Homo sapiens: one gene and its partners. The protein of the gene in region 1 purifies or fractionates together with the protein of each later gene. This does not show direct contact. Each region holds a gene or a part of one and is shown in the gene's direction. Other genes may lie near its edges.

Region 1 (4,734 bases):
GTTGCCATTAAAGATAAATCATCAGTGTTGGTGTTTAAAAAACAAAAACTTGTTCTGAGCATGCTGCCTTATAATTTTCATACTCATTGTTTCTAAACTCGCATCATTTTTCTAGGCTACTTGATGCTCTGTAATCCCTTACTGGACAAACTTAAATAAGCTTTTGGTAGCTTTTAGAAATGGTTTTACTCTGCTTTTAAAGGACATGCTTTTAAAGGACATGCAATTAATGGCACTGGTTTTGTCCTGCACTTTGCTTTATCACTTATGTTAGTGGATAAAATATTTAAACTCCTAAAGACTTGTAAATATTGCCTCTTTGCATAATGTAAAATGTGGTATGCCATGGTTTACATAATGTAACATTACTCTTATTGTATTGCCAACAATTTTACATAGATTTTAATATGAATGAAGTTTGCAAGCATCCCTTTGAATGTAGAAACTGCTAACATGCTGTTTTATGGCAAGGCCATAATGAGTATGTTAAGAATTTCAGGTGTAGGGCAAGGTTGCCCTTTGTAACAAGTGGACTAAAATTGAAATTATTATCTCAGATATTCTGTATTGCACCTGAAACCATGACCTTTATTTTTCCATTTCGTTTAATAATTTCCATTTTGTTGTCTACTCCTTCCCACAAAAAAACTATTTGACATCTGACACATTTCACAGTCTCACTATCCTGCATTTATTAGCCTTTTCTTCCTTTGAAAATACACACAATTATGACTTTTAAGGAGTATTTTGAGATTTCAGACATCTTCAGAAGGTATCTAGACCCTCTTGAAAGCCACTAACACCTTTCTGCAGTTCTGATATTCTAGTTTGAGAAAGAGAGAGAACTATTTGAGAAGCTGTAGCTAAAGAGTATATAGCAGCTGATTCATAATTGAAAAAAAATTCTCAATTCTGTTTTTGATGATCCTTTATAAAACATTAATGAGGAAAGACAAGTGTTTAGACAAAAGTATTTTAGTTTATAAATTCAGCACATATGTAACATTTATTTGGTCCATATTTCTCTATTTTTCTTCACAATTAAAATGATTGCTAGCACCACACAACTAGAATTTGAAAATTCAGTATAATGAAAGCTTTATATCACATTAATTCAACTGCAAATGTATGCCTGTTTGTAGGCATTATTTGTAATTCATAGTGCTAAAAATAAAAGTGTCTAGGGCTCAGTAATATTTTGTCATCTTACTCTTACTGCTTTTAGTAAACCTTTTAGGCAAGATTCATCTCAGTGAAGTGAACAATCATTTCTTCATAGAAGGTCAAGCCTTTTTAAGCCACTCTTAAAATTTATGCCTAATTTGAAATCCACAGTCCTTGACCAGTTTAAAAAAGAGAGGAAAAAGAAGACACTATTTTATATGTGATTATAATTGTTTGCACAAACACTTTTCCACCTTCCTCTGTGCCCCATTACCTCTGTGCCACTCAGTCACCCCAAATCTCTAACCTTTAGTAATGTGTATGCCTGCAAATATTATGTGTTTGCCTGCTGCAAAATTGAAGGTGTATTTTTATAGACAAGGTAGAAGCCTCTGAAAATGTATACCAAATGTCTTGTTTTGTAGCTAAGGTCGGGAAAAATTGTATCTGAGGTTTATGTTCCAGCTAATGTTATCAAATTTATGCTTCAAACTGTGATATTTTAATACCAAAATCGATTTTCAGCATAATACAAAATATCTCATTTTCACTGATAGAAAATTGCTTTTAAGTGTTGATCCTTAGAAATCTTATTTTTTTCTATAACCTTAGAATTTGATCATATGATGGTCATAGGAACTTTTTCTGCCATGTATAAATCACACTTGGTTTTGCTCAAAGAACAGCATGAAGTGGTGAATTGTTTCCATGAAACAATTATTGAGAATGGGAATACAGTATATCTGGAAATGACACAGTATAATACAAGTTACAGTAGCATTTGTCACAAAAACCACTTGTCAGCATGTGTAAACTTAATTTTAAAGCCTATTCTAATCACTCGAGTTTATTATTTTATTGTTCGCTATGCTGGTTGACTCATCTTAGTTTCTTCAACTACCCAAAAAAATACCAATTTTTTTCCTCTCTTGTATGACTACTTTTTCAAACTGTTTTCCTTTGCAGGGGGCTGATTAGCAATTGAGTATTTTGTAATGTTTGGGCGGGGTTGCTTTGTTTTCAGTGAAATTGGTTGCAGTGAATGCTAAAATGACACAGCACACTGGTGATTAATTCCTCCCCCATGGAGCCTTTTTTCTGTTATGCTTAGGATAGAACATACTTGTAATTTTCCATTAGGTTAGTAACATACTTTTGTGAAAGTTGTTTTTAGACTGAAGAAAGTAATTTTGAATTTCTTTGTTACATAATATTCCTTTATGAAACTTGTGATAGTTTCCAGAGCAAAACATGTATTTGCCAAAGTATATAAATCTCACAAGGCTTTAAGATTACAAGCTAAAATTGTTTTTTAAAATTAATGTTCCAATGTTTCTCATTTGGCCCAAGATTCTGGCTTCATAAATTTGTCCAACTGGCTATTTTTAAGCTTGTCCTAAAAGCCAATAACATGTTTATTCCTAATAACTAATATGGGCAAGTGTTATTTACAGATTTATTAACTCCATCCCAGATATGTCTCCACTCTTTGTTCCCTCCTAATGCTAATTTAGGAAAGAGACCACTGTAGTAAAACTTTAGAAGAAGATGGAGAAGTGCCTTGTCTTTTTAGAACAAAGATAACACATTACGTGTAAGGAAGCATAATAAATGAATTGGTAGATGATTAGATTAGAAATCATCCTTTTCAACTAGGTCTAAGAATACTTTACTAGTGTATTATCTTTTATTTATTATGTAAAGCTTCTTTCCTTCCTTTTCCCCAATCATGATATATTAGTGACAAAATATTACAGAACCGGACTATCAGTCACTTAAAAAAACAGTATAATTCTAATGCTAGTAAACATGTAATTTAATTTAGTTCTGGAAGGACAGTTGTCTTTGATTAAAGCCCCACCAAAACCCATTTAAGTATTTAATGTACATACTATTCATATTATTATGGCCTGTAAACACTAATATCTGAGCAATCAAACTGTTTTATCTACCATTTTTGATGAAATTTGAATAAAGTTTAAAAACGTGTAAGCCTTTGAACAAATGTATGAAAGCTTTAAAAGATCATTAGCACTTTTATTTTGTTTACAAATAAGCTGCCATTTAAAAAAATAAAACCTCACTACTTGAACATAAAGCTCCCAAACAATATTGTATTAAAATGTACTATATTGACCTAGGAGGATATAGAAATTATATTCACCTGATTAACTGGAGCAGTTTCACATAGTAGAAATACTTTTTGCTAATTTGATTATAAGTGCTCAAATTTATTGAAATTAGATTCTCATGCCTATAAAAGTATACTTTAAAAATATTTTGCAACAACTGTCAAATTATTTGGGTTCCTTTAAATAGCAAACAATTGGGAAATTTTCCATAAAAATGAATAGGTTTTATTAATACCTGTTCATGTAGTATGTGGACTAAAACAATTGATATATATCTGTATGTAAAAATGAATGATCTTATCTTGCCCCAAATTTTTCTTACCTGATTCTGAGCCAGCCTTTTTGTTTTGATGGCACCCTGTGAGTATGTTCCATTTTCTGTGAACTTTGTCAAATTCATACTATATGAGGAAATGATCTAATATTGTGGGCTCCAGGCAGGTCATCTTAATTGCATGTCTGTCTCTTCTGTAAAATGATGAGGTGGAACCTAGAGCTGGACAAAAAATTAGAGATCACTTAACATTCTGTGATTCAAGGAATTCTTAGGACATTTTTACTCTATAGAATCTCAGAATGATTATTCTCAGATCTACTGTCCTTGGTGGAAACTCTCACAGTGCCTTGCATGCAGTAAAAGTTTGATTTGCCGACTGGCTGACGTGTTAATTATCACACAGACTCCAAGAACCTGATGCTTGCTAGACCTTAGTTCCTTGGTGATGCTAAGAGTAAATGTAGTTTTCCTAGGAACTGAGCACTGAGGTCTGTGTCCTTTGCCTGTGTAGAATCTGTCTATGCAGTTGGTATTCAGGCAAGAATTTTAGCTGTAACAACAATGGAAATATTGGAGGACCCACTTTGGCATTTATGTAAAGATTTCATATCCTATCCAACATTTACTTTAGTGTCTAATCAAATTCCATACCCTCAAAAAGATCTGTTGGAACAAATTGATAAAATTAGGTGGAAAGGAAAGTGGTATGGGACTCAAATACAAGTCACTTCTGGTTTAATTATTGGCTCTGCTGCTTAATTCCTCTGTACCTCACGTCCTCATTGTCGAAGTGGGGACAATAATCTGGACCTACCTCACAGGGGAATTGAGGATATTTTCATATATTAGTGTGCTTTGAAGTTGACTGAAAGATATACTGGATATCATAATTATATAATTTCTAAATAGATTTCTTTAAATCCATGCTATGTTTTCTTTTTCAGTCAGGTCCTACAGAATGACTATTGCACTTGGTCTATTGTTTTAATAGTAAATTTTGTTATTAATCTCCTATGTGTTAAACGTGGGTAATTGTATTATGTTAATACATACTTAGGGAGGAAAAGCAGGTGGATGTAAATCAGTGATTCCCAACTTCAGCAGATGATAGCAGTGGAGGGTATCCTTGAGCTTTTTGTAATATTTCAAAAAGTATATTAG
Region 2 (4,734 bases), on another chromosome or scaffold:
TGAGGTTGCACATATGATTACGATTGGCCTGTGCCGTAAGTAACTACGTAGTTGATAAGTTTTCTGTATGTTGTAAAAATAAATAGGTCTGAAGATGTTGTGCAACTCATGAAAATCTAACTCAGTAGCTAAAATATTTATAAAGCCACACTTTTCAGTAAAATCACAGGCAATTTTTAATTACTAGTCAATAGTCAGCCTACTAACAGTATATGTTTTCTTACATTTCATAAAGAACATGGGTAAAAGCAAGGGGTATATTTTTAAGTAGATCTTGTCATGAATTTCAATTACTTTTATATTAGAAATCTTTAATAGAAATGGTAAAGGCTTCACAGCTCTATACTACTAAAAAAAGAACTTTTTGAAAACAGTTCCATTACAGATGTGCCTTTTTGCTGTACTACAGGAAGTCCCTGAAGTTATTATTAGTGTCTTAAAAAAGTATATAAAATGTTGACAATTGTTACATCAAATGCTCCAAATTACTAAATATAGGCATTAATTTTAACATATTACATTACCACCAACGTGGCATACCTGTGCTTTAAGATTTAACCTTAAGCAGGTGCTTAACTTAAGAGGAAGATGCTTTTCTTGAACTTGTACCTTGAAGTCCATCTCATTGTTTAACATTTCACCACTGAGGGTACCTTTTGAAATGGGCCTGAGTGGTATCTCTCCTGTATTTTTTGTCAGATTCCTTCTTGTCACTATGAAATGAAAACAAACTCAACTTTACTAAGGACATTGTAATCTTACTGCTTTGTTTTTATCGTGTGTCCCAGGGAAATCAGATGCAGGCAGTCCTCAGTACACTGAGCAACACTGCTATGAAGGGAATAGGTAAAGAGAAAGACTGAGACTGAATGGAGGCTCTTCCAGCTTGAAGATTCTGTGACTGTCATTCAGTCACTGGGTGTTGTACTACCTCAAGGGTAGTCATCACATACTGTGTCTAATTGTCAGTATTTCTGTATTTTAAGTCATACCTGTGGAAAGCACTTTTTGATTACAACTTCGCTCAATGTTCATATGTGATATTATCCTTTAGAAGGCAGTTATATTTCCTTGAAATGCCAGTACATCATTTTAAAACTGTACAGATATACCCAGAAAATCCTCATGTATTAATGGGGATTGTCTTCATTTTTTTTTTTTTGCTTTCAAGGAAACAGGTAAGAATTGAAATAAGTGCCAGTTATGTGAGAGAATACAAAAGAAGCAAGCCAGTAAAGAATTTCATCTAAAAGTATATATAAATAGAAGATGAGAGAATGAAAGACTTAAAAGATTAAATGTAGACCATGAAGCATTGATATTACCAAATGTACCAAAATGTAAACTTAATAAGTTAAAATATGTAAGTTCGAGAATCTAGATAGTGAAATGACTTCAGATAATGAGAAGGTTTGTATAAAATGCAAAGTGACAGGCTAGGTTTGGTGGCTCACACCTGTAATCCCAGCACTTCGGGAGGCGGAAGCAAGTGGATCACCTGAGGTCAGAAGTTTGAGACCAGCCTGGCCAACATGGTGAAACCTTGTCTTTACTAAAAATACAAAAATTAGTCAGGTGTATTGGTGGGCACCTGTAATCCCAGCTACTTGGGAGGCTGAGGCAGGAGAATCCCTTGAACCTGGAGGTTTCAATGAGCTGAGATTGTGCCACAGCACTCCAGCCTGGGCGACAGAGCAAGACTCTGTCTCCAAAACAAAACAAAACAAAACAAAACAAAACAAAACAGAAAAACACAAAGTAACAATGAGAATGAATTGGATTTTATGAAATCTTAAAAAATTAAAAATATTTTAAAATGTTGATTAAATAATTAAGCCAATGGTTAAACATGGTCCTCGGATGAAAAGTTCAGGGAATAAAACAAACTCCTGGAACAGAATAACTGAACTCTTAAAAGGAACATACAAGGTTGCATTTTTTGTAATAGGAATAATTAAATAAAAGGCCAATAACCTACTTTAGAGGAGAAATAAGAATGGGGTAAAAATTATTCAAAACAGCTGTATTTCTCAAATACTTTTGACTGAGGTATATTATAAAAAATACCTTTAACATCCCAATCCACATAAAAGAACTGAAACAAGTTTCCTGAAACAGGACAAAGTGCAGTGCCCTCTGATATTTTCTATTCCTAACTAATCTTTATAAATCCAATCTGTTTCAAGCCATTTTATTAAACAAAAAATACTAGGTATTATCTATCAAATTGATTTCATGACTTATAGTTTGAAAAACACTGGCCTAGAGTGCCTGCTTGCCTTCTTAGAAATGGAGGTCTCTAGGCCTCATCCTTTGATATTCTCATTCAGTGTTTCTGGGGTGGGGCCATGGAATTTAGATTTTAGCACATGTAGCAGGTGATTCTAAAGCAAGTAGGAGGTCCTCCAATTGACTTTGAGAAACCTCAGTACAAAGGACAGATGGCCTAAGATTGGATGTTCTGAATGTGGGGCTGAAGTTCATTGACTTTATGAGGTGTCTTGCATCTTCACCATTCTTTGGCTGTATTTCAGTCAGTATGTTTGCAATACTGAGGAAGGTCCTCATCACCCTCTGTAGGTGCTCCTGTAGTAGAAGGTGTAGTACAAGGAACAGAGGCCGTACCACCAAAGAGCTCTAGGTTCCACTCCTGCTGCCTCTATTGCTTATTAGTTGCGGGACTCTGAGCATGTTACCTCACATCCCTTAAACTTTTATTCTCATATGTGCACAATGGGTATGGTAATGTTTACCATGCAATAATATGGGGATTACACAAGACAGTAATGAATGTAGGACCCTTATTCACAGTTAGCGCTCAATATATAGTCTCTGTTTTTGTAATTACATCTCATCTCACCCTACCCTCCACTGTTTGAAATTTCTGAAAGCCTTTTAGTTTTTTTTTTTTCTCTAAAGTGATTCTCACCTCTAGTTATCATGAAACATGGGTATGTTTTTAACTAGACATGAGGTGCTGGACAAGTAATTTGTTAGGGAAGGAAATAATAAGAGTAACCAGAAGGAGAAAAGCCAAGCACAGCTGAGGCACGCCACAGTAAAGTACAGTCCTCCTTCAGGTTTGGGGAATGATTTTCCCACCTCTTTAAAAAAGTAGAGTATGGGATGAGAGAACAGCTCTTTTCATATTTCACGGTAGTTCTCCCTTGTCAGCACAGGGCATTCTCTCTGGTGACTTATAGATATTAGAATGTCTTAGAGTATCAGTTCTCAAACTTTCTTCCGTCAAGACACATGTGTAATCCCAGCCCTTTGGGAGGCTGAGGAAGGAGGATTGCTTGAGCTTAGGAGTTTAAGACTAGCCCGGGCAACATAGTGAGACCTTGCCTGTACTAAAAATAAAAACAAATTAGCTGGGGGTGGTGGTGTGTGCCTGTAGGCCCAGCTACTCGGAGGCTGAGGTGGGAGGATCACTTGAGCCCGCACGGTTGAGGCTGCGGTGAGCCATGATCGTGTCACCGCACTCCAGCCTGGGTGAAAGAGCAAGGTCCTGTCTCAAAAAAAAAACCAAAACAAAAACATGTGACCAATGTTTACATATGGGACATTATGATTTCCCCTGGTTAACAGACAGATAAATTATGCTGTGAGTTTTATAGGTAGTTCACAGTGTGATAAAGCCACTCCTTTTTTAAAAAAAGTCAAGAAAGGCATATCAAATTGCAAGTGAGAATGGTGCTATAATGAAAACTTCGAATATACTTAATAAACACATGGAAAATTGTAAATTATGGTACTTTAATTGTTCTAATTGGGGTGTTCCTCATAAACAAAACCCATCCTTGTGTCAAGGCATGGAGATTGAGAAGTGTTACATATGTAGTGCTTAACAAATTACATTGCACAAAATAGGCACTTGAAAAGAGGGGCAAGCTAAGGAGAAGATAAATGGGGAATACATTAAATCCCTGAAATCTCAAAACAATGTGAAAACCAAAAGCTGGGGAAATGTACAGAAAATACAGAAGACTACAGGTATCAGGGTTTTCAAATGGTACTGTCGTACTCAAATACACATTGACACAAAAATTTAAGTAGTCTCAACAATCATTAAATTTATGTGAATAAATCAAAATTAAGTGACTTTGGCATTTCCTAATTTTTAAGGTTATATTTGCCAGGAACGTCTTCCCACTTTGCTAAATTTTAATTTGCCATACGTTTTTGATCTCCGGTAAATTAATAAGCTCTCTATATTTTGAAAACGCCTCAGTACTTTGATGTAGTAGTATTGGAAATAGATTCACAATCTTTTATCTAAAAAGCTCTGAAAAACTAAAAGTTTTTTTTTTCCTTCAGAAGTGTGGTATCAAAACTCATTTGGTAGCAAAACCTAACCCATACTGTCATGGGATTGTTTAAAGTAGTTTTCAAGCCTGCTTAGAATATTCACATATTTTGCTGGAAATAATAATATTGATTAATTGTGAGGTATTATCCTAGATATAGCTAGGAATGTTATGTAATATGTGCTATAGGTACCATTTTGCCTTTTTAAACCCCACAAAAATCTGAATCCTGAAGCATATCAGGACCTAAGGGTTTTAAATAAGGGATTGTGATCCTATTGCATTAACTTCCTTGGTTGGTAGAGTGAAATTCTCTGATATGCCTAACCACTTAACCCAATGAAAAATTATTTTGCTAACTTTGATCACTGATCATTGAACAATTTAAGTTCCTTGCCAGCTAACAAATGATGAAAGATTTTTT
Region 3 (3,500 bases), on another chromosome or scaffold:
TAGTTTTATGCTCCCACCTAAAATTTTTTCACTATTTTTATAAGATGTTAATTTCTTGAGTACTTTATTTATAACATGCCTGTACCTTGGGTAAACCAAGTAAACTTTTTTTTGTCTTAGGCAAAGTTTAGACTGTTCGTATGATGATACACTTTCTTTTTTATGTGGGTTTTTTTTTTTGCTTGTTTTTTATTTTTATTTTTATTTTTGAGACAGAATCTTCCTCTGTTGCCCAGGCTACATAGCAGTGGCACCTTCACAGCTCATTGCAACTTCCACCCTCCTGGCTTAAGCGATCCTTCCACCTCAGCCTCCCAAATAGCTGGGACCACAGGTGCCTGCCACCATGCCCAGCTAATTTTTGTATTTTTAGAGAGACGGTGTTTCACCATGTTGCTCGGGCTGGTCTCGAACTACTGAGCTCAGGCAATTCTACCCACCCCAGCCTCCCAAAGTGTTGGGATTACCAGTATAAGCCACTGTGTCTGGCCTTTTAAAAATTTTTGCATGACTTTTCATCTTTTTATGTGTGTTTCCCATTTGTTTGATATGAGGGAAAAATTTCTAATAGCTTGAGAATCAAGGGGATGGGGATTTTGGTTGTAGGCATTTTATAATAATTAACCCCTTAGCAGTGGTGTAGAAAAATAGGTAAATTTTTTGTTTCAAGACTTAAAACTACCTCAAGAAGAACAATCTAATGTAACAGTATTTGTAACGCTTCCAGAGGTCTCAGATGAGGAATTTTTTTGTAAATGGTTTGGAAGAAGATTAAAATATCCTGGGTTAGCGTAGTAACATTACGGTAGGATCCTTAGGTTGATGCTGACTTTTGTTTGGGGTAAGTTTATATTTTGTGTGGTGTTTATTTACTTTTTTTGAAGAGGAGGATGTAGTAGGAGCAGTGTTACAAATCAGTTTAAGTAATGGAGTAGACCCTGTTGTCAGTGGGGCATAGATGAGTTATGAGGGCTAAAGCTTGCTCTGATGGTCTCTTTTTGTTTTGTTTTCTTTGCTTTTATCTTTTGTTTTACATTTGGGGAGGGGAGAGATTTTCCATTAAGGAAGGTTATTGCTAGTGGATTTGATTCCAAGGGTCTGGGGTGTCACAGTAGGGTTGGGGAGGGGCTGCAGGGTGATCCTTGGCTACTGAACCTCCACAGAGAGCATGTGGTGCCCCTGCCCTTTCAAGATAATTTACTCTCTTGTTAGTTTTGCAGGCCACCTCAGATTCTCTGTTGAATTGCTGTTAAGAAATACAGACCAGTGTTGTTTCTGGGCTCTCGTTGGGTGAGGTTTTCCTGAGTTTTATGTCTCTTCTTAGTTCACATCGTGTTACCCAGAACACATGCTTCACTGTCTTCTGAACAGGCAGTACTCCTGTGGCTCTGTGTCTTGGCTTGTTTAGTTTTTTTCAGCCTTGAAGGCTCCTTCCCACACTTACTGACATCCACTCATGTTCCTGGTATGACCTGGATTGCTGCCTGGTCCCTGCAACCTCCCAATGCCCTTTCTGCTGCATTCCCAGAGCACAGGACTTTTCTCTTTTCTACTGACCTTGCTTGGTTCTCCCTTGTGGGTTAGTAATTTCTGTCTGTCTCTTTGCCCCTCACTAATTGTTCACCCATGAGAATTAGGTATTATTCCTTTTAAATATACAGGGACCATATAGTCTTTATCTTTTATACATGATACTTATTACTCAATTTTGTGTGTGCAAGGTATCTGGCACATGGACCTGTGATTAGTAGCCTGAGGTCAACAAATCTCAGTTAGAATGCGTAGGTTAAACAAAGCTTTTTTTTTTTTAAATTTAATTTAATTTTATCTTTATAGAGATGGGGTCTCACTATATTGACCAGGCTGGTCTCAAACTCCTGGCCTCAAGTGATCCTCACATCTCGGCTTCCCAAAGTGCAAGGATTATGGGCATGAGCCACTGAGCCCAGCCTAAACAAAGCTTTTAAAAGCTCCTGCAACCTCAAGGTTGTTAACCTGGTCATCTCATGGTAATTAGAAACTCTGATTGGCTGCTTTAGATTTCTTGATTAAAAACCTAAGTAAACTGATTAAGTTTTAGGCATTCTTTCAAAGGTTTCTCAGTGAAAAGATTGGGAACTATTCTATTTGGTGCTTTGTGAAAATATTTTGAATTAGTATATGTGCCAGTTATTGCCATTTCTTAAGTCCAAAATGTTTTTCTGGTCAAATAAATAGCAGTTTTTCAAAAACAAAAATTAGCTGTGTGTGGTGGCATGCATGTGTAGTCCCAGCTACTCAGGAGGCTGTGGGAGGACTGCTTAAGCCTGGGAGATCAAGGCTGCAGTAAGCTAAGATGGTGTCACTGCACTCCAGCCTGGGTGACAGAGTAAGACCCTGTCTCAGAAAAAAAAAAAATTTATAGAATGATCCTATTTTTGTATAAGACTAAGTATACACACACACACACATACTTACATTATATATACACATATAGTAAAAAGTTTATATACATGTGAATATATACAAATACGTATGTATGTGTGTGTATATGGAAGAGTTTTGCAAGTATCAGTTAATGGGAATTCATGATATTCTAACTGCTTTGTCTTAATCTGGTGTATTCTCCTTGGGGAACTACAGAACTTGGCTCTATATTATTTATCAAAAGAGATTGATATTACATTAGATTATCAAGAGATTTCTGTCTTCTCTGGGTTCCAGTGCCTTAGGAATAATTTTTATCTGGTATTCCTTCTGATCCTTGTTATCACCAGTACACACTGGCACTACCATCTTGATTACTTCACTTTAGTAAAATTTCCTAGGAAATTAGTAGATTGCTGTCCCCACTCCAGGTTATATATGTATAGGAGTACTTTTTGTTGTTATTGTTCACAGATTCATTGAGTTGCAATTGGCATATAATAAACTGCACATATTTTTAAGGGTACAGTTTGATGAGTTTTGACATATATATTTATACCTGTGAAACAATCACTGCAATCAAGATATGAACATATCTGTCACCACCAAAAGTTTTCTTGTGCTCCTTTGTAGTCCCTCCCTCTCTCCTATATTCTTTTCCTCCCTTCTGCTTGCCCCCAACCCTGCATTTTGTAGAATTTTATTTTATTTTAGAGACAGGGTCTTACTATGTTGCCTAGGCTGGCCTCAAACTCCTGGGATCATGTGAACCTTTCACCTCAGCCTCCTGAATAGCTGGGACTATGTAGAAATTTTATTTTATTTTTGAAGACGGGGTCTGGCTCTGTCACCCAGGCTGGAGTGCAGTGGTGGGATTTCGGCTCACTGCAACCTCTGCTTTCTGGGCTCAAGCCATCCTCCCACCTCAGCCTCCTAAGTAGCTGAGACTACAGGGTCACACCACCACGCCCAGCTAATTTTTGTATTTTTTGTAGAGGCAGGGTTTCACCATGTTGCCCAGGCCTCAAGTGATTCGCCTGCGTTGGCCTCCCAAAGTGCTGGGATTACAGGTATGTGCCACTGTACCCAGCCTA
Region 4 (4,734 bases), on another chromosome or scaffold:
GTCACTTTGCTGTTGCATTTGAGACAGATCCAAACTCCCCGCCACGCCTCTACAGCCCTGTATGTTTTGCCCCCGTCTGCCTTTGACCTCATCTGTCTCTGCTCTCCCCTTACTCTGTGTGGCTTTTCTGTGCTTCTGCCTCAGGGGTTCTCAACCAGGGGCAATGCTGCCATTTGGAAATGAGGTGGGAGTGCTGCTAGTTACTATGGCAGGGTGAGGGGAGCTTTGTAATGACTGTGACTGAGGAGGGGCCACCACTGCATCTCATGTCCTGGGGTCCAGAGATGCTGACCATCTGGTGTAGGGGAGACAGTCCGACACCACAGAGTGTTGGCACCTCTGCATGGCTGGCTTCTCAGCTGAGCGGGCCTCTTCTCCAAAGAACTCCCTTCCCAACACACCCATCTGCAGTGCCCCCCCTCACCATCTGTACTGTGTCACTGCAAACTCCCTTCCCAACACACAGGTCTGCAGTGTCCCCTCACCATCTGTACTGTGTCACTGCAAACTCCCTTCCCAACACACCCGTCTGCAGTGCCCCCTCACCATCTGTACTGTGTCACTGCAAACTCCCTTCCCAACACACAGGTCTGTAGTGTCGCCTCACCATCTGTACTGTGTCACTGCAAACTCCCTTCCCAACACAGAGGTCTGCAGTGTCCCCTCACCATCTGTACTGTGTCACTGCAAACTCCCTTCCCAACACACAGGTCTGTAGTGTCGCCTCACCATCTGTACTGTGTCACTGCAAACTCCCTTCCCAACACAGAGGTCTGCAGTGTCCCCTCACCATCTGTACTGTGTCACTGCAAACTCCCTTCCCAACACAGAGGTCTGCAGTGTCCCCTCACCATCTGTACTGTGTCACTGCAAACTCCCTTCCCAACACACAGGTCTGTAGTGTCGCCTCACCATCTGTACTGTGTCACTGCAAACTCCCTTCCCAACACACCCGTCTGCAGTGCCCCCCTCACCATCGGTACTGTGTCACTGCAACTGGCACATGTTGGTTTGCTCGTTCATCTCCCCAGCGAGCCTGGCATGCGCCTTCCACTGCTGGAGTCCCTGTGCCCAGTAAAGTTCCTGGTGCATAGCAGGTACTCAAAGACTTTGAAAATGAAATAATTCTTTATCCTACCCTAACATGGCTAACATTTTGTCCAAGTGACTGAACATGTGGAATTAGGATTTTGGATCCTTCATGGATCAGAGAAGAGAGGCGGTTTTGCTCTGAAACAGTAAAACTCTGCATGTTTGTAACTCCACAGGAAAACACTGATGATTTATTATTTCTTCTTTGTATATAGATAGAGTATCTCACCCTTTTGGGGAAAAAAAAGTCTTTTTGATGTGTTGAAAATTGTTTTAATCTTAGGTGTCTTCTGTTTATGAAGCAAGATGTACAGGAGAGAGAGATTCTGGAGCAAAGTCAGATGGCTTCCGCGGAAAGATGTGCTCCAGCGCCAGCTCCACCTCGGAAGAGACAGGCTCAGAAGGCGGAGGCGAGTGGGTGGGCCCTAGTGAAGAGGAGCTCTTTTCTCGAACTCATCTCTAAACCTGCAAAATAGTACAAATTATTGTTTAAAAATGATATGTGATGGAAAATTACTCTTCAGTGAGACCTGTTAATCTAAAACAACAACTTAGGTTTCCTCTTCAATTAACTGATTCAGATTGGTAATAATTATCTTTCTCTTCTTGCTTATTTTAGAGTTGAGGACAGCTATCCTGTTAAAGATTTTTTTTCCCAGCTGTTAAATTCTTGGCTATTTGAAATAGACTAGATTGTGTTGTCAAATCAAGAATGGGTGTGCATGTGCTTGTCTTAGAAGTATCACTGCTTTTTGCATCTTAACTGCAGTTAATTTTCCTTCCGACTGCGGTTATATCACTATGACCTTACTAGCATTGCAGTGTCAACAACCACTTCTGCTCTTCAGAGACTTCAGCTTTGGAGCATTTAGGCTTTGTTCTCCAAGAACTGGGATATCCATTCTTACCCTACAGTGGCTTGATGCCTTTCTGAAGGCGAGAGGGAAGCCTGGGTGACTCAGCGGTGGTCTCCATTCAGCAAAATCTCATGTACATTTCCAGTAGGAACCGCAGAGGTGTGCTTTTCAAGACTCACCAAATACTGTGTTTTCTCTCTTAGGATTTCTTTTCCCCTAAAGTATCACGGAAGATACTATGGTTCGTGACTTTCTTGCTAACTGAAGAAGCCAAGGATTTGGGGTGTGGGGTCGTATGCGAGACACAGTGGGGTAAGGGTGCATACCCCACCCCTTACCTGCTCTCATACTGCAGTTACATTTACACCAAAACCCCATGCAGGGTTCTTTGTGGTGAGTGTTCCATACGTGCTAAGGACCTTAGTTACAGATTGTTACTTTCTGGTGACCTATGTTGAATTGAAACCCCCAAAACTTGAAATTGTGAACATTTGACATGCAGTAAAGGCCACCTCATCACCCAGAGAAATCTTTGGCTGCTGCAGCTAGCCGCTTCTTGGCTGTGATGTAGTATAGCTTCGATCTCATTTTGTGTTTGAGAGAATGTTCTGGGCAAGTTCTGTGTGTGGTGGGTTGGGGCGGGTAGAGTCATGAGTTTTCCACATCCCTGTGTGGTGGTTTTGCTGACTGTCGCTCCGTGGGACTGGCTCCCGTTTCTCCTTGGTGAGCCCGGGGAGCCGGCGCATCTTGTGAGTCGCGTCTGTGCATGGCGATCCGCTCCTCCGGCTCTCATGGCATTGTGCCACAGGCAGAGGCCAGGAGGAGCAGTATGTGCACAGCCGAAACATTTTACATTTTTTACATTGTTTTTCTTTTTTAACCAACTCATTGTTTAAAAAACAAAAACAAAAAAAACCTAATCTGTGAAATCAGCGTAGCATGCCTGGAGCATCAGGAATGGCAGAAAAGTCTGATGCGCTCTAGACAGCTTCACCACTCATTTGGGCAGGCAGTAAACACACATATAATTTATTAGCTGGGAGCTGAACTGGCTGTGAAATCTATGATTTGCTTTGAACATTTGGGTTTTGTTGCCTTTTTCTTAATTGATAACACAGAAAAGAAAGTACCATCAAAGACTGTGGAGTCATTGAGGGTCTGTGTGTCCTCACCGAGAGGGACCTGGTGTGCCCGCCGGGTCGATCTTCCCACGTGTTAGGGTTTATTTTTATACAACACATTTTTTGACACTTTAAGGTGGGTGGGTGTGTGTGTGTGTGTGTGTGTGCGCGCGTGCGCGCGCGCATGTGTAAGGTTTTATGTTGCTGTTATTTATTTACGAACTTCAGATACGTTTTTATGTATTTTTCATTCTTCTGGAGCTTCCTAAAAATTGATAAGCATCTGCACTGAAATATAATTTAACAGCAAAAGTAAAAAAGGATTGAAAGTTGTAAATTCCTCATATCACTACAGTGACGATTATTCTAGAAATCGTTGCTTGTGTAGCAAAGACCAAATAAATAGATTTCAGACACAACCTTGAGCACAGTTGATTTTGGACAGCTGCTGTTTATTAGGAAAGGGCTCCAGGTGGCAAAGGTGCACACTTCCTCAGACACAGGTGAGAAGATGCAGCACCTTCCACAGGTGAATGGGACGGATTCGAAGTGAGCAAAGGGATTCACAAATTATGTATTTATTTGTTTTCATAGTTAAGTAGCTGAAGCTCAGAGGCTTTCAGCAACAGAGATGAAAGTGTGGCTTTTTAGTTTTGTGAATGGATGATCACAAAGAAAAAGCATTTTTAAAAAGTTGGCAAACGCTGAAACGCACTGTGGTATGAAGCGCATTGCATTTCCATAGCACTGAAGTACCAGTTTCCATTCCTGGGCTGAGATTGTTTTTCCCGTGGTTGTATTGTTCTGATTTCACGTACACCAGAGTAACTGATTTTTTTTTGTTTGTTTTCTTGTGGAGTTAACACCAAATAAAAATTGTAAAAAACAGTTTGTTGTTTTTATTTCTCATAGCAAAGCTTCTTTTGTAAAGAACTCCAGCTTCCTTTTACTCATGAGCATCCGTGGAAGAGCAAGTGCCCAGGTTACATTTGTTCTAGATGGAGGTCATTTAGCTCTCATTGCAGACACTGCTGAAAACATTGTGCAGCTTTGCTAGGGAAGAAAGTGGTGTGGCCTGCTGAGAAATCAGCGGCTCCTCCCCATCTCACCCCCAGCACACGCAGGGACTACTACCTGAGTCTGCAAAACACATAGCATTTTTGTCCGTGGATGGTACACAAAGCTCAATCTTTTTGTTTTCTTCTGGGGAAAAAATTAAATCTTTATATGTTAATATGATTGATATTCATTGTGCAAAAAAAATCAGTGTGTTTTTAAAGAAGTATAAGGGAAAAGGAAAACTCATATGTCCTTCTGTCACTCTGAGACATACACTGGTAACATCTGTGCAAGCCCCTTTCCAGGATTCTGAATGTACAGTATATATGAATGCATACACAGAGAAATTTACATTCAAGAGTGTACTATACTTGTTCTTCTATAACATCAGAAATAGGTTTTTACTCAGATGTCTTCATGTCGGTAATTATAGAACTACATAATTATTTTTATAGCTGTATTATGTAGATTTAACAGGTTCCTCATTGATAAAACAATGTTTTTTTGGTTGTTTATTCAGTATCTGAATAACGTTTCTATGGACATCTGTAAACATGTATGAGGGGACTTTTAAAAGTTCATGGAAAATGGAATTAAAAGAAAAA
Region 5 (4,734 bases), on another chromosome or scaffold:
CAAGAATGCAGAGCCAGGTTGACCCCATCTAGAATCTTCACATGTCTGGCCTGGGATTTGCAAGACAGGAGCAGACTTTGGATTGAAAATGTACAGAAAACCAAGAGGAGGCATTCTCTGCATTGTGAGATGTCAACATAGACATCTTAAAGCTACCTCCTTTGAGAGTGTGGCTATTTGAGCTTTTCAGATCTTGTTCAGTGACCTGTTACTGTTACGTGAGAGGTGCCAGGTATAAATAGAATCTGATGGCAGAATCTGTAAATGTAAACAAAGCATCTTAGGAGTGAGAGATCAAGGCCACAAAGTATCCAGAGCCATGACTACAACTATACCTACCTGTAAAAAATGTGATACTGGAGTAGAGTATTCTTGTCCTTTCTCTTACCCAAAGACTACCTGATCAGGACAGGTAATCCAGGTTCTGGAGCTCCACCAGGGCAGTTCTGTTTTCTATTTAGAATCAGCCTAAGTCTCTACTGCCTGGCTTACTACTGGGCCATCAGCCCAGGATCACTGAGAACCCTCTCACAATCACCTAGGCATCTTTGAAACATTTGAGGATGTCCAGAGTAAAACTGTGTTAGGCTGACAAGAGTGGTTCATTCTGCTTTTGTCTCAGTGTAAGAGAAATGAGTCACGCCAAAAAATGGGGGCTTCATTTGGGCCGCTTCTTTATATTGTTGTGACTTCTGAGGTCATCATTTGAATGGATGTTTATGGACAGAAGAGTTGTTATTATTATTTCTGTTTCTTTTACCTTGTTAAGAATACATATTTATCTTCTAATACAATTATGCTAGAAAGCCCTAAGAGATTTGTTTAAATTGCTTATTAGTATATGTTATAAAATTGACAGGGCAGTGGCTAAAAAAGATTAAAATTACACAAACTGTGGGATTTAAGTTTCTCTTAGGTAAGCTTAGGAAAAACAGAACGGAAATACCCCAGTGGCATAGAGAGCAGAATTCTACATAGTGTCCTCTCCCTGCCCCATTTCTGTTCAGATTCACCCTTTTTGGAGGCCTTATTGAAGTCTGGCTTCACCTTGGAGTCTAGCCTTACAGAACTGATTGAAAGAGAAGTGTTTTGGGTGATGAATTCGGCTGCCTTTCTAGAGCTGTTGCTCAGGATTTCTTGAAATCTAAAAGCAGATAAATGGGAAAAATAAAATAATATTTTAGGGCCTTAATTTCTTAATTTTGTATTAAAATCAGTGCATGCAGAAACATGCCATTTAGCAACTTATTCCTTATTCTATTCCTGAAGACCCAGTAGTTGCTCCACAAGCCACAAACAAGTAAATATAAACACAATAAAAATTCCTCCAAACTACGTTAAACTCTTTTCTTTATTCCTCTCATCTGTCTATATGTAGCTTTTATTCTGTACATTTTTCACAAAAAAAATGACAAATATAAATGCTGGGCCCTTTTTCTAAATTCTGGCAATTATTAAACAAAACCAACTCCCAGGGTGTTACGAGGATTAAATCACGTAATGTTTTATTCCTAGCAGTACTCTGTAACATACTCTTGAGGACATAGTACCTGTTTAATAAACATTGCATTAGTGCATGTGTAAATGTTGTTTTCCAAATGCAGACTTATTTGGACATTGCTGGCCTCTGTTTCCTCTGTAAACTTTAAAGAGCCAACAAAGAATATACTTTAGGATGAAGATTGGTTGTCTTTATTTGTACCAGAAGTATTTGTATTTTGACAAGAGTGCTGAGTGTAAGGGATTCTGTGATGTGCCTGCTTTGTCTAACTAGTGCTAATAATGAGCGCAGGGGGAGCAACATCAGCATCTATAGAGGACTTGTTTAAAATACCCTTTCATGGACCATTTTCAAACCTGCAGAATCACATTACATAGAGTGGGGCCAAAATCACCAAGTGATTTATAAGCTTATCAGTGCTTGAGAGATAATAATTAGCTAAGCGTTTATCAGCCCAGGCTTCTGATTAAGATTACATAGCCAGTTTGCAGAAATCTCTATTTGTGCCCTCCCCACAGGTTCTGTTCTATTGTTCTGGAAACATCCATATTGCTTTAAGGGCCTCATGTGACTCTAAGGTGAGGCCAGAATCAAGTATGAGGGATTCAAGATACATTCGTGAGTGTTAAGTTCTATCTTCGCACTAAAGGGTGGTCACAAGGCCTGTTTTCTTTGGGTTTGGTAGGGACAGGGCAGAGTGCCCCATATTTCCATTACTTTAGCAAAAATTGTTGGTGTCTGTGGTAGCAGAGGGCATCTGAGGACGGGAAAGGAGATATCATTATCTCCATAGAGCAGCTTATTTTTCCTGAATCTCTTCTGTTATAGAGGACAGAAATGGGTGGACTTTTTCTGCAGGTCTTGGACCTTCTGCCTGTGGGTGTGGTGGTAGCAGGTAAACAGGTGGTGCCGACACCTTTAAAGCCATATTCTTAAGATTCAGGTGTAATTTCTCCAGAGAATCATCTGAGAAAGAATCCCAGAGCAGGAAGAGAAAGAGGAAAAAATGGCTATTTTTCCGCTAAAAGTGTCTCAGATCAAGAGCTGTGTCCACTGTGCCTCCTGGAATGCCATGTGTTTAGTACTTATAAACCTTCTCTACTTGTGCTTTTCCTCCCTAATGAGTTTGTTTTAACTACTGTAAAAAATTTTCATTATAGTCAAGTATCTGAAAAATTTTTATTTATTTATTTTTGAGAAGGAATCTCACTCTGTCACCCAGGCTGGAGTGCAGCGGCATGATCTTGGCTCACTGCAACCTCTGCCTCCCGGGTTCAAGCAATTCTCCTGCCTCAGCCTCCTAACTAGCTGGGATTACAGGCGCGTGCCACCATGCCCGGCTAATTTTTGTATTTTTGGTAGAGACGGGGTTTCACCGTGTTGACCAGGCTGGTCTCGAACTCCTGACCTTGTGATCTGCCTGTCTTGGCCTCCCAAAAGTGCTGGGATTACAGGCATGAGCCACCGCACCCAGGCAAATATTTCTTCCTATATACTGGAGCCTTCTCTACATCATGGCTTCTTATATGCCATGTAGAATTCTCACCATGAATTTATGATCTTAAAAATGTTCCCTTTGTGACTATTGAATATGGGAGGATGAATATACTCAAGATTCCTATTGGGGAAAAGCTGGGGTCCTTAGTCAAGGAGAACATGTAATATTGAGGTTTCATCTGTCTTCTCCATTAGCTCTATGCAGAACAGGATTAAGAAAATGCTTTTTGAAACAGGATGGCATTTACTACCCAGAAAGTTCTGAAGAAAATTATTAGGAGATATATGTTGTCTAGGGTGCTAAAGAAAGACTATTTAAAATTACTATTAAAAATTGCAGAACATGGGAGATATCTGTATCTCAAACTTTGCATAAAATGGATGTTTCTTTATGGTTAAATTCAGGCTATAATTTACTTTTTGGGGAAGTAATATCCCAGCAGTGATGCTGTGTCCTTCTGTTCATCAGCACATTATAAAAATTTGTCCTAGTTCAGTTGATATTAATGATTCACTTGGTTAAAGAGCTCTCTGACAGATTTTTTCACTATAGAGTTAGTAATTTTTCTCTCGATTATTAAGTATCTGTTTTCTTTCTTCTTTTTTTTTTTTTTTTTGAGACGGAGTTTCACTCTCGTTCCCCAGGCTAGAGTGCAATGGCGCAATCTCGGCTCACTGCAACCTCCGCCTCCTGGGTTCAAGCAATTCTCCTGCCTCAGCCTCCTGAGTAGCTGGGATTACAGGCACGCGCCACCATGCCCGGCTAATTTTTTGTATTTTTAGTAGAAATGGGGTTTCACCATGTTAGCCAGGCTGGTCTCTGAACTCCTGACCTCAGGTGATCCGCCCACCGCAGCCTCCCAAACTGCTGGGATTATAGGTATAAGCCACTGGGCCCAGCCAGTTATTAAGTATCTTTATGCAGCTGATGTGCATAAACCATTACAGTTAATCTGGCAGCTGCCCTTCTTTATTAGGTTTTCTTTGCATATATCTGTCTTTGGAAAATGAAGGCTCTCGTCTTTGTTTATGGGTCAGAAAAACTGGGAAAACCCACACTCCTCCCCCTTACTGGATGCTTGACAAAATAATCTTCTTGGGCAAAAATCATTGGCATTATTGGTGATCTTCTTAGAAATTAAGAAACTCAGACTTTATTCCAGATGTTCTGAAAAAATATATGCATAACAAGATCTTCAGTTTATCATACACATTAAAATTTGAGAGGTCACTTCTAACTCCATGTCTTTTCCATCTGAAACATATACACTCAGAAATGTACGTTTGTGTTCATGCCCTTAATTTTATACTTTATCATCCAGAAAAGTATCATGTATACACTGGTGTTATGGATCTTATGTCATTCTCTTTTCTCAGAGTTAGAGAATACATTAGAAAATATTTCTGTATTGAAAATTATTTTATTGGATCATTTCAGTCACTCCTGTAAGTCAGAACTTGTTCTCTTTACTCTTTCATTTCACCTTAAGTCAAATAAAAAATTCTGCCCATGGCCACTTAGTAAACATATGTGTGTTTGTGTGTGTGTGTGTGTTTTTCAGGGACCACTGACATTTAGGGATGTGAAAATAGAATTCTCTCTAGAGGAATGGCAATGCCTGGACACTGCGCAGCGGAATTTATATAGAGATGTGATGTTAGAGAACTACAGAAACCTGGTCTTCCTTGGTGAGGATAACTTCAATACACAATACACAATGCTCTAAAAGTTTCAT
Region 6 (4,734 bases), on another chromosome or scaffold:
CAAGAAAGTTGTCCTTCTGGCAATATTTCAGTTTCTAATATGCCCAAGATATTTAAAATGATTTAAAATCATTTAAAATGATTATCACTGAACAGATCTTTCATTCGTAGAAAGTAAATAGATTTTAATTCTGTATCAAATTGATAAAAGAGTAGCTGCCCAGTAAATATGTTTAAACATGCCTGGGCTTTGCAGGAAAGATTGTCACAGTTGCCTGGGGAGGTCTGCCATGAATGGGAGTACAGGAGGCGGCAGTGTGAGCACCAGTACAGAAGTATCACAGACTCTTGACTCCTGAGGAAGGTGACTGCTCAGATGCACTCAGTACCTCAACTGGGTAAAGAGATGTGAGACCTCATAATCCCCAGTCTTTCACTTTGGTTCCTTGATCTGCAAACTGACTACTAAGCAAGTTAGCCAACAACCTACTTGGTCAGCAATCAGCTACTGTGTGGGTAGCAACAGGTCTGTCTTGTATTTGAACATTTAACATGAGAGATAAAGCTGAGGATTTTACACTGATCTTCAAACAATCTTAAATGAATGAATTGGACTTTTGGAGAGATCTAAAAATGTAGACAAATCTCCGATTTCATTTTCTTTATTTTACTACAATTTTAGGTTAAATTAGTGTTTATCTGAGTATGTAAATTGTATATTGATTTAAAAAAGGATTATTTCATTCTGCTGCTCTAGGAGGTTGTATTTGATATTAACTTGGAATTATGTGGGACTTAAATCTTTAAGATGGTATCTCAGAGACTAAAGAAATGAATAGGTTAGCACAAATTCTCTTCCCTTCAAGACATGTTTTATTTATTTGTCTTTGCTACAGGTTACAGAATCAGAGTGTGCACCAATCCCAACCACGGGTATTGGAGGTAGAGACTACTCCAGGATCCTTGAGAAATGGTCCAGGGGAAGAATCAAACTTCAGAACTTCATCACAGCAGGAAATCAACTATAGCACACATATCTTCTCTCCTGGAGGCAGCCCCGAGGGAAGCCCAGTTCTAGATCCCCCACCGCATCTGGAGCCTAATAGATCAACAAGTAGGAAACATTCAGCTCAGCACAAAAATAACAGAGATGACAGTTTAGATTGGTTTGATTTCATGGCAACTCATCAGAGTGAACCTAAAAACACTGTTGTTGTGTCTCCTCATCCCAAAACATCTGGAGAAAATATGGCTTCGAAGATCTCTAACAGCACATCTCAGGGTAAGGAGAAGAGTGAGCCAGGCCAAAGGAGCAAAGTGGACATTGGGTTGCTTCCATCACCAGGAGAGACAGGTGTTCCATGGAGGGCAGACAATGTGGAAAGTAACAAGAAAAAAAGGCTAGCACTAGATTCTGAAGCAGCAGTCTCTGCTGATAAACCAGACTCAGTACTGACTCATCATGTCCCCAGGAACCTGCAGAAGCTGTGCAAAGAGAGGGCCCAGAAGTTGTGCAGAAATAGCACCAGGGTGCCTGCACAGTGCACAGTCCCTTCCCATCCTCAGTCCACTCCTGTACATAGCCCAGACAGAATGCTGGACTCACCCAAAAGAAAGAGACCGAAATCCCTTGCGCAAGTGGAAGAGCCTGCAATTGAAAATGTTAAGCCTCCAGGTTCCCCTGTGGCCAAACTGGCAAAATTTACTTTCAAGCAGAAGTCAAAACTGATCCACTCCTTTGAAGATCACAGCCATGTGTCACCTGGTGCAACTAAAATAGCAGTTCATAGTCCTAAAATTTCCCAGCGTAGAACAAGAAGAGACGCAGCCTTGCCGGTGAAGCGTCCAGGAAAGTTAACATCTACCCCAGGAAACCAGATCTCCAGTCAGCCACAGGGTGAGACAAAGGAGGTGTCGCAGCAGCCACCAGAGAAACACGGACCAAGAGAGAAGGTGATGTGTGCCCCTGAGAAGAGGATTATTCAGCCTGAATTAGAGCTTGGGAACGAGACTGGGTGTGCTCATCTTACTTGTGAGGGAGACAAAAAGGAAGAGGTTTCAGGCAGTAATAAAAGCGGCAAGGTTCATGCCTGCACATTAGCCAGATTGGCAAACTTCTGCTTTACTCCCCCATCGGAATCCAAATCAAAATCCCCTCCTCCTGAAAGGAAGAACCGAGGTGAGAGAGGCCCAAGCTCCCCTCCTACAACCACAGCTCCAATGCGTGTCAGTAAAAGGAAATCTTTTCAGCTCCGTGGGTCCACCGAGAAACTGATTGTTTCCAAAGAATCCCTCTTCACTTTACCAGAACTAGGTGATGAAGCATTTGATTGTGACTGGGATGAAGAGATGAGAAAAAAGTCATAGTTGGGAAAAGCTTTCTGGTCAAATCTCACCTTCTTCAACTCCACAGAGGACCTTCAGGATATCAATATGGTATTTATAAATGTATAGAACAATTGGCCATATTGAGGATCACTCTGAATACTGGCTCCCCCTTAAGGCTTTCTAATTTCAGGTTAATCTTCATGACTTAAAAAGTTGTATAATCAGTTGAGGTCAGTGTGATACCAGCAGCTGAGCTGAATTAATTATGTTGTGCTTAATTTTACAAATGGAGTACTTGTATTCCTGTTCCTGAAGCTGTTTCTGTTTTTTGTTTTGTTTTGTTTTTAAGGGGGAGAGGTTCTTCCCTAGATTAATTTCTTCTTTCATTCACTCAGGAACAAATGTCAAGAAGGTAGCACTCATAAATCTAACAAGGCAGATGAACTCTTTTCTACTTTTTTTTTTTTTTTTTGTATTTTCACCTGGAATGGGCTAAGTACAGTGAATATAATCACTTGGATGATTTGCCAAAATCAGACTATTTTTCTAGTATTATTTTTGTATTGATTTGTGTGGATCAGGTTAAATGTGACTAATGCTTTTCTTTCTTTGAGAGGTATCCTTACAATTCCATGATGTTCTTAGAGATCTGGCCACTGGTCAAACAGTACCTTTCTGAAGTACTGACCTTCTGAGTTGTCCTTTCTTTCTTGAGCCAACATTTTGTACTTCAGATTCTTTTTTCTCTTGGGGGCCTACCTTCAACCAAGTAAAATACTGTGATTAGAAGAAGAGAGAGTATGAGCCAGGCACAGTGACTCACTCCTGTAGTCCTAGCTACTCGGGGAGGCTGAGGCAGGATGATTGCTTAAGCCCAGGAGTTCGGGGTTACAGTGAGCTGTGGTCACACCACTGTATTCCAGCCTGGGTGACAGAGTGAGATCCTGTCTCTAAAAATAAAATAAATGAAGAAGAGAGACTATGTGGTAGTCTCAATCAAACATCATGTCTCATCTACCCAGCTGGTTAATATGGAAATGTGATTCCTACTAAGTTGTGATTCACTTGTCTTTAAAACCAAGGAAATTATATACTGTTTTTGGTCAGAATAGATAACCTCAAGCTTTGTCTTTCTATGTGCTTTTAAAATCACTTATTCCTTTGGATTCTAATAAGGGTTATTAGGATTCAGTAATTATGGACTTTCTCTTCTGAAGTGTGAATTTGTAAACTGATTGTTTAATTGTCAGAGGGACTTTTGGACATAGAATACTCAAAACTATATGTATTTTGTTTAATTTTCACTTCATTCAATTCACGCATTGAAAACAAATTTAGAAAATCCAATTTTTCTTAAGCATTTAAACGTTCTAAAATTCACTAATAAAATTTTCTGAAAAAATTTAAACTGTGAGTACAAATTTAGTGTGGCTGAGTCTTGAAATGATTGGCCATAATGAGTACCATTCTCTGAAGTTTGAAACACCTTAAACAGCTGATAAAAGACATATATAAACAATGATTATAAAATTTATTATTTCTGTACCTGTTTAATAATTTACCAGTATACTATGATTCTTAATATATTCCTAATCTTTCAGTTTTATTGCTTTCCTGGGTTTCAGTGTTCTTACCAGAACTAAAGGAAAAGGAATGGAAGTGGGTTTTTGACCAGCTGAATCTTGATCTGGGCGTGGTCTGATTATTTAGATGAGGATGACTCAAACCTAAGCCACAGTGTGGAGCTGACTTTTTTTAATGGTAAATTTTTAAGTCCATGTCTTATGAATTTTTGTCTTTGAAACTTGGTATCTTTTGCAGTAATTATGTATTAGGTTTTGCATGGCTGACAGTACCTAACCTATTGGCATGTCATTAGGGTATTTTGATCTGTTATGTTATTTAAAATATTTGTATTCTTTATTGGGACTTTTGGTTTTAGAGGTTTCATTTTTAGTAATGAGAGATTTAATTTTCATAGTTACCTTGTCTCTTTAGGACACTGAGTAATTCATATTTTAAATTACATGTTGAATTGTCTTTCTTCCTTGGTCATTGTGTATGACTGCCAATGCCACCTTCTACCTGGTTATAATTTGTGCCCACCATGCATCCTATTATTTTGTGCTAATCAATCCACTTTCCATTTTAGTACCTTCTGTCAAGATTTGGCCAAATTACCACTTCCATATGTTTATTCTTTGGTACTTACCCAGATAGAAATAACTACATACCTAAATATTTTAAACAGACATAATTATTAGAAGAAATAAAATACCCAATACATATTGAATATCCCTTATCTGAAATGGTTAGGCCTGGAAATGTTTTGGATTTTGGATTTTTTTGGATTTTGGAATATTTGCACTATACCTATACTTACTGGTTGAGCATCCCAAATCTGAAAATCCAAAATCCAGAATGCCCCAGTGAGCATTTCCTTTGAGCATCATGTCAGTACTCACAA
Region 7 (4,734 bases), on another chromosome or scaffold:
CAGTTTTTAATCCAAGGTTTATATCAATAATCCAGCATATGTTTAATGAATAAATCTATGTTCCACTGTTGTGGACACCTGGCTCTGTGTGGTCATTTTATTTAGACTTTACCAGCCGTGAGAAAATTCATGTCTATGTCTCAGGACAAGATGTGTAATCAAAGTAGGAGCTGTGCTGAGAATAAGAATACAGGTCTAAAAGTGTTTATATAGAATGAAGAGAAGATTCAAATGTAATTGGATGGGCCAGGCACGGTGGCTCACATCTGTAATCCCAACACTTTGGGAGGCTGAGGAGGGTGGATCACCTGAGGTCAGGAGTTCGAGAGCAGCCTGGCCAACATGGTGAAACCCCATCTCTACAAAAAATACAAAAGTTAGCCGGGCATGGCAGCACGTGCCTGTAGTCCCAGTACCCAGGAGGCTGAGGCAGGAGAATTGCTTGAACCCAAGAGGCAGAGGTTGCAGTGAGGTGAGATTGTGCCACTGTACTCCAGCCCGGGTGACAGTGAGACTCTGGCTCAAAAAAAAAAAAAAAAAAAAAGGAAATGTAGTTTGATGGAGATGGCAGCACTTTTAATGTTGACTAGGCTAGAGATAATCAATGTTTATGTATTTGGAAGATGTTGAATAAGGAGCCGTTAGGCTTTAATATGAAAAATGGTGTTTACATGTATCTGTAACATGGGAAGTTTTTTCTTTTTTAAGTGGGCCATGGCTTACTATGGTAGCTTCTTAATAGCTACTTGAATTTTGAAATATAAGCTACTTTGGCTTTATCACAGTATTCCTTAACAGATGGTTGCCTATTTTAATTTTAAGAAAAATAGCATTTTTTTGTGCTCTTGTTTCTCATACATTGGTGTGAAGATGGAGTTATTCTTTAAACACATATTACATTTCCTGCTTATCAGTTGTATTCATAACAGGTGATAGCAAAGAAAACTATTACCAGAATTACAGAATCCCATAAAAACAGGCTGGACTAATGCTTGCTTCTCTGTTTCTTAAGATGGAACAGTATTTTTATACTCATGTCTTCATTTTGAGACTGCCATCATTTTAAATTGGAAGAAAGGAAACTGGAAGGGATCTTTGAGATCACCTCTTTATTTTATAGAACCTTAAGCATAGAAAGGATAAGCTTGGTCGGGCACGGTGGCTCATGTCTGCAATCCCAGCACTGTGGGAGGCCGAGGCAGGTGGATCACCGGAGGTCAGGAGTTCAAGACCAGTCTGGTCAACATGATGAAACCCCATCTCTACTAAAAATACAAAAATTAGCCTGGTGTGGTGGTGTGCGCCTGTAATCCCAGCTACACAGGAGGCTGAGACAGGAGAATTGCTTGAACCCAGAAGGTGGAGGTTGCAGTGAGCCAAGATCGCACCACTGCACTCCAGCCTGGGTGACAGAGTAAAACTCCATCTCAAAAAAAAAAAAAAAAAAAAAAGGAATAAGCTTGGCAAGCTGGTATGTAGCAGACCTGACATATAGGTTTGGAGTCTTAAAAGTCCGAAGAAGCCAACTTTCATTGCCTTCCATTATAGTCTTTCTCTCTTTGGCATTTACTGTCATCCTGCACAATAATGCGTAGACTTTTCTTTTATAGATAACAAAGGATATTATCTGTTAAACTATATATAAGATTTTGTATGAATGTATTTTGACTAATTGTTAAAATGTCCTGCTTTAAGGAAAAAACCCTTGCTTCACATTCCTAAGTCTTAAGAATTATTTTATATAATTTGAATTCAGCTTTATTAAGCCATCCAGGTCACTAGCAAATTTCTAGCTTTCAGTATTAATTCTGGGCTCTAGGATGGGATATTGACACATAGGGAGTTTTAAATAAATAATACCAAGGAAACAAAGTGGTCTTTTAACCATGAAATAGTATCTAGAAGGCTGCTTATTTACCTGGATTCTAAATATATAGGAACAATCTGTTTCTTCCTGAGTTTAACAATTGTGTCTTCATAATTAAGATCTGTCTTGACTTAAGAATTAGCATGAAAGTGTTTGGAATCTTAAACATGGATAGCATTTTTCTGGAAAGATATTTAAACAAGGAAAGTGTCCCTCAAGTAAGACTGAAGCAAAGGAAGAGGTAATACTCACATCAGGGTCTGTAAGAATCACTAAGATACAAATTTAATAAGAAATACTTCCAAATGGGTTGGTTTAATATCTATTCTGCATGTTAGCATTTTAGCATTTTTTTAACTGTGTTAGAATTTAAGCACAGTTTTACAACTCCCCAAAATTATGTTTCCTCAAACTGATTTGGCTATAATGGGGGAGATTTCCAAATTAAAGACTATTTCAGAAGGCCACAAACCAAAAAGGGTGTTAAATGTTTGATAGAACTGAATGAGCTATATTTAAAATTTAATTGGTGAACATTACATTAATATATGATACTTATCTGGGAAATGTTGTAAATCTCAAGAAAGAGAAAAATATAAATGTTAGTCCCGTCCTCATTTCTTAGCAGAAAATTGACAATTATAAGCTCTGATTCATTTGACTTTGTGTTCCTGAATTGAGTGATCGATACTTGAGGGGAAGGGAATAATAGAAAATAGTGTCCTGGTTTTTCTTATTTATCATCTCTATTTTATAGATGAAGAGATTTAGGTAGAGATAAGTAGCTTGCCCAAAGGTCACACAGCTAGTAAATGATGGAACTAGGATTTGAACCTAACAGTCTGGCACCAGAGTCTGCTTTTAACACTTGTCCCTATACTTCTTTTCAAATATAATTTCTACATTCAGTCCTATGTAATGTTTGAGTATTATGGGTTTTGCCACTCTTGTCTAGGCAATTGAACCCTGTCTCCCAACTTCTAGAATAGAATTCTTTATATCATATCACACTGATTCATAGTAAGTAAATAGTATAACTATTGGGGAGTGGGGAGAGGTGAAGATTCTGAGCTTAAAATTTGTGAATTTTCAACTGTTCATATGGTTTTTCTCCTTTATTCTGTTAATAATGGTGAAATGTCAATTGATTTTCAAATGTCAAACCAGCCTGTATTCCCAGGATAAAATCTACTTGGTCATGGTCTATTACCCTTTTAATACATTGATGGATTTGATCTAATATTTTATTAAGGAGTTTTGCATACATGTTCATGAGGGATATTAGTCTATGGTTTTCTTTTATTGTAAGAGATTTGGTATGAGTAGGGATCTATTTCCTCCTCTTTTTTAAGGGTTTGTGTAGGATTTCTACCAGTTTTTCTTTTTGTTTCTTGTTTGTAGAATTCAGTAGTGAAGCCATCTGAACCTGGCATTTTGTTTTTGGGAAAGTTTTAAATTATGAATTAAATTTCATTAATAGGTCCAGGACTATTCATATTTTCCTATTTCTTCTTGAGTGGGTTTTGATGATTTGTGTTTTTCAAAAGAATTTGCTTCACCTAAGTTGTTAATTTATTGGTATATAGTTCATAATATTTCCTGTGATATCTGTAGGATCTATAATGATGTCCTCCTCTTTTATTTCTCAAGTTGTTAATTGATTTTTTTCTCTTTTTCTCAAAAAGTCTTGGTGCATTTATTAATTTTATTAATCTTTTCAAAGAACCAACTTCTGGTTTTGTTGGTTTTTCTCTGTTGTCATTGATTTTCACTCTAATCCACTGATTTTCACTTTTTAGTATTTCCTCTTTCCTCAGACCCTACACATTACAGTAGAAGCATAGATAATTGATTTTAGACTTTTCTCATTTCTAATTTAAGCATTGAAAGCCATAAATGTACCTTCATGAACTGCTTTAGCTGTAGTCCACAAATATGATACATTATGTTTTCATTTTTATTTATTTCAAAATATTTCCTAATCTCTCTTATGATTTGTTCTTTAACTCTTGGATTATTTAGAAGTGTGTTGTTTAGTTTCTAAATATTTGGGGGTTTTCTAGCTAGTTTTCTGTTAATGATTTTAGTTTAATTCTGCTACAGTCAGAGAACATATCTCTATACTTTCAATTTCTTCAATTTATTGATACTTATTTTATGGCCCAACACAAGGTAAATGTTCATATGAACTTGACAAGAAAATGTATTAGGTCGGGTGTTCTTTGTCAATTTGAGTTAATCGTTAGTGATATTTTGTATCCCTACGAATTTTCTGTCCAATTTTTCTTTAATTACTGAGATTGGAACGTTCAATATTCAATCATAATAATGGATTTGTCTAATTCTCTTCTCAGTTCTATCAGTTTTCGCTGCAATGCATATTGAAAATCTGTTCTTAGGTGTTATTCTTTGTCTTATTGACGAATTGACCCCTTTAGCATTATGAACTGTTCCACTTCATCCCTGGTGATGTTCACTGTTCTGAAGTCTTTTTTGTCTGACATTAATACAGACTTTCGGCGTTCATGTGATTGGTATATGCTTGGTATCTTCTTTCATCCTTTTGACTTCTTTGTTTTACTTTTTAGGAGTTGGTCTGCAGTTTATAGTATGCAGCTTAACTTTTCATCGTGTACTTTCAAATGATATCTACTTCACATGTAATTTAAGATTTTACAGTGTATACTACTTACATATTCCTTCTGCCTTTTTACTATTGTTGTCAGAGATTTTATTTCTATAGATGTTATAAATTGCACATACACTTAATATTTTTGCTTTAGTTTTAAAATTTTGCCAATGAGGAAAAAAAGTCTTTTATATTTATTCACATATTTACTTTTTCCAGCACTTATCCTTCCTTTGTA

What was found.
Region 2: the proteins of CHIC1 (region 1) and BBX purify together in Homo sapiens (affinity purification with mass spectrometry; one large-scale study listed by BioGRID and IntAct). This does not show direct contact.
Region 3: the proteins of CHIC1 (region 1) and KIFBP purify together in Homo sapiens (affinity purification with mass spectrometry; one large-scale study listed by BioGRID and IntAct). This does not show direct contact.
Region 4: the proteins of CHIC1 (region 1) and KIAA0232 purify together in Homo sapiens (affinity purification with mass spectrometry; one large-scale study listed by BioGRID and IntAct). This does not show direct contact.
Region 5: the proteins of CHIC1 (region 1) and ZNF92 purify together in Homo sapiens (affinity purification with mass spectrometry; one large-scale study listed by BioGRID and IntAct). This does not show direct contact.
Region 6: the proteins of CHIC1 (region 1) and MCM9 purify together in Homo sapiens (affinity purification with mass spectrometry; one large-scale study listed by BioGRID and IntAct). This does not show direct contact.
Region 7: the proteins of CHIC1 (region 1) and NUFIP1 purify together in Homo sapiens (affinity purification with mass spectrometry; one large-scale study listed by BioGRID and IntAct). This does not show direct contact.

What each region holds. Positions count from the first base shown.
Region 1 is NC_000023.11:73,681,256-73,685,989, forward strand, and holds part of CHIC1 (cysteine-rich hydrophobic domain-containing protein 1), read left to right. Parts: 3' UTR 1-4,734.
Region 2 is NC_000003.12:107,528,676-107,533,409, forward strand, and holds part of BBX (HMG box transcription factor BBX), read left to right. Parts: intron 1-4,734. UniProt on the Homo sapiens protein: Transcription factor that is necessary for cell cycle progression from G1 to S phase.
Region 3 is NC_000010.11:68,991,803-68,995,302, forward strand, and holds part of KIFBP (KIF-binding protein), read left to right. Parts: exon of another isoform or gene 1-66; intron 67-3,500. UniProt on the Homo sapiens protein: Activator of KIF1B plus-end-directed microtubule motor activity. Required for organization of axonal microtubules, and axonal outgrowth and maintenance during peripheral and central nervous system development.
Region 4 is NC_000004.12:6,879,412-6,884,145, forward strand, and holds part of KIAA0232 (uncharacterized protein KIAA0232), read left to right. Parts: intron 1-1,375; coding exon 1,376-1,555; 3' UTR 1,556-4,734.
Region 5 is NC_000007.14:65,383,342-65,388,075, forward strand, and holds part of ZNF92 (zinc finger protein 92), read left to right. Parts: intron 1-4,560; coding exon 4,561-4,687; intron 4,688-4,734. UniProt on the Homo sapiens protein: May be involved in transcriptional regulation.
Region 6 is NC_000006.12:118,812,396-118,817,129, reverse strand, and holds the end of MCM9 (DNA helicase MCM9), read left to right. Parts: intron 1-835; coding exon 836-2,306; 3' UTR 2,307-3,675; downstream 3,676-4,734. UniProt on the Homo sapiens protein: Component of the MCM8-MCM9 complex, a complex involved in the repair of double-stranded DNA breaks (DBSs) and DNA interstrand cross-links (ICLs) by homologous recombination (HR).
Region 7 is NC_000013.11:44,943,952-44,948,685, reverse strand, and holds part of NUFIP1 (FMR1-interacting protein NUFIP1), read left to right. Parts: intron 1-4,734. UniProt on the Homo sapiens protein: Binds RNA.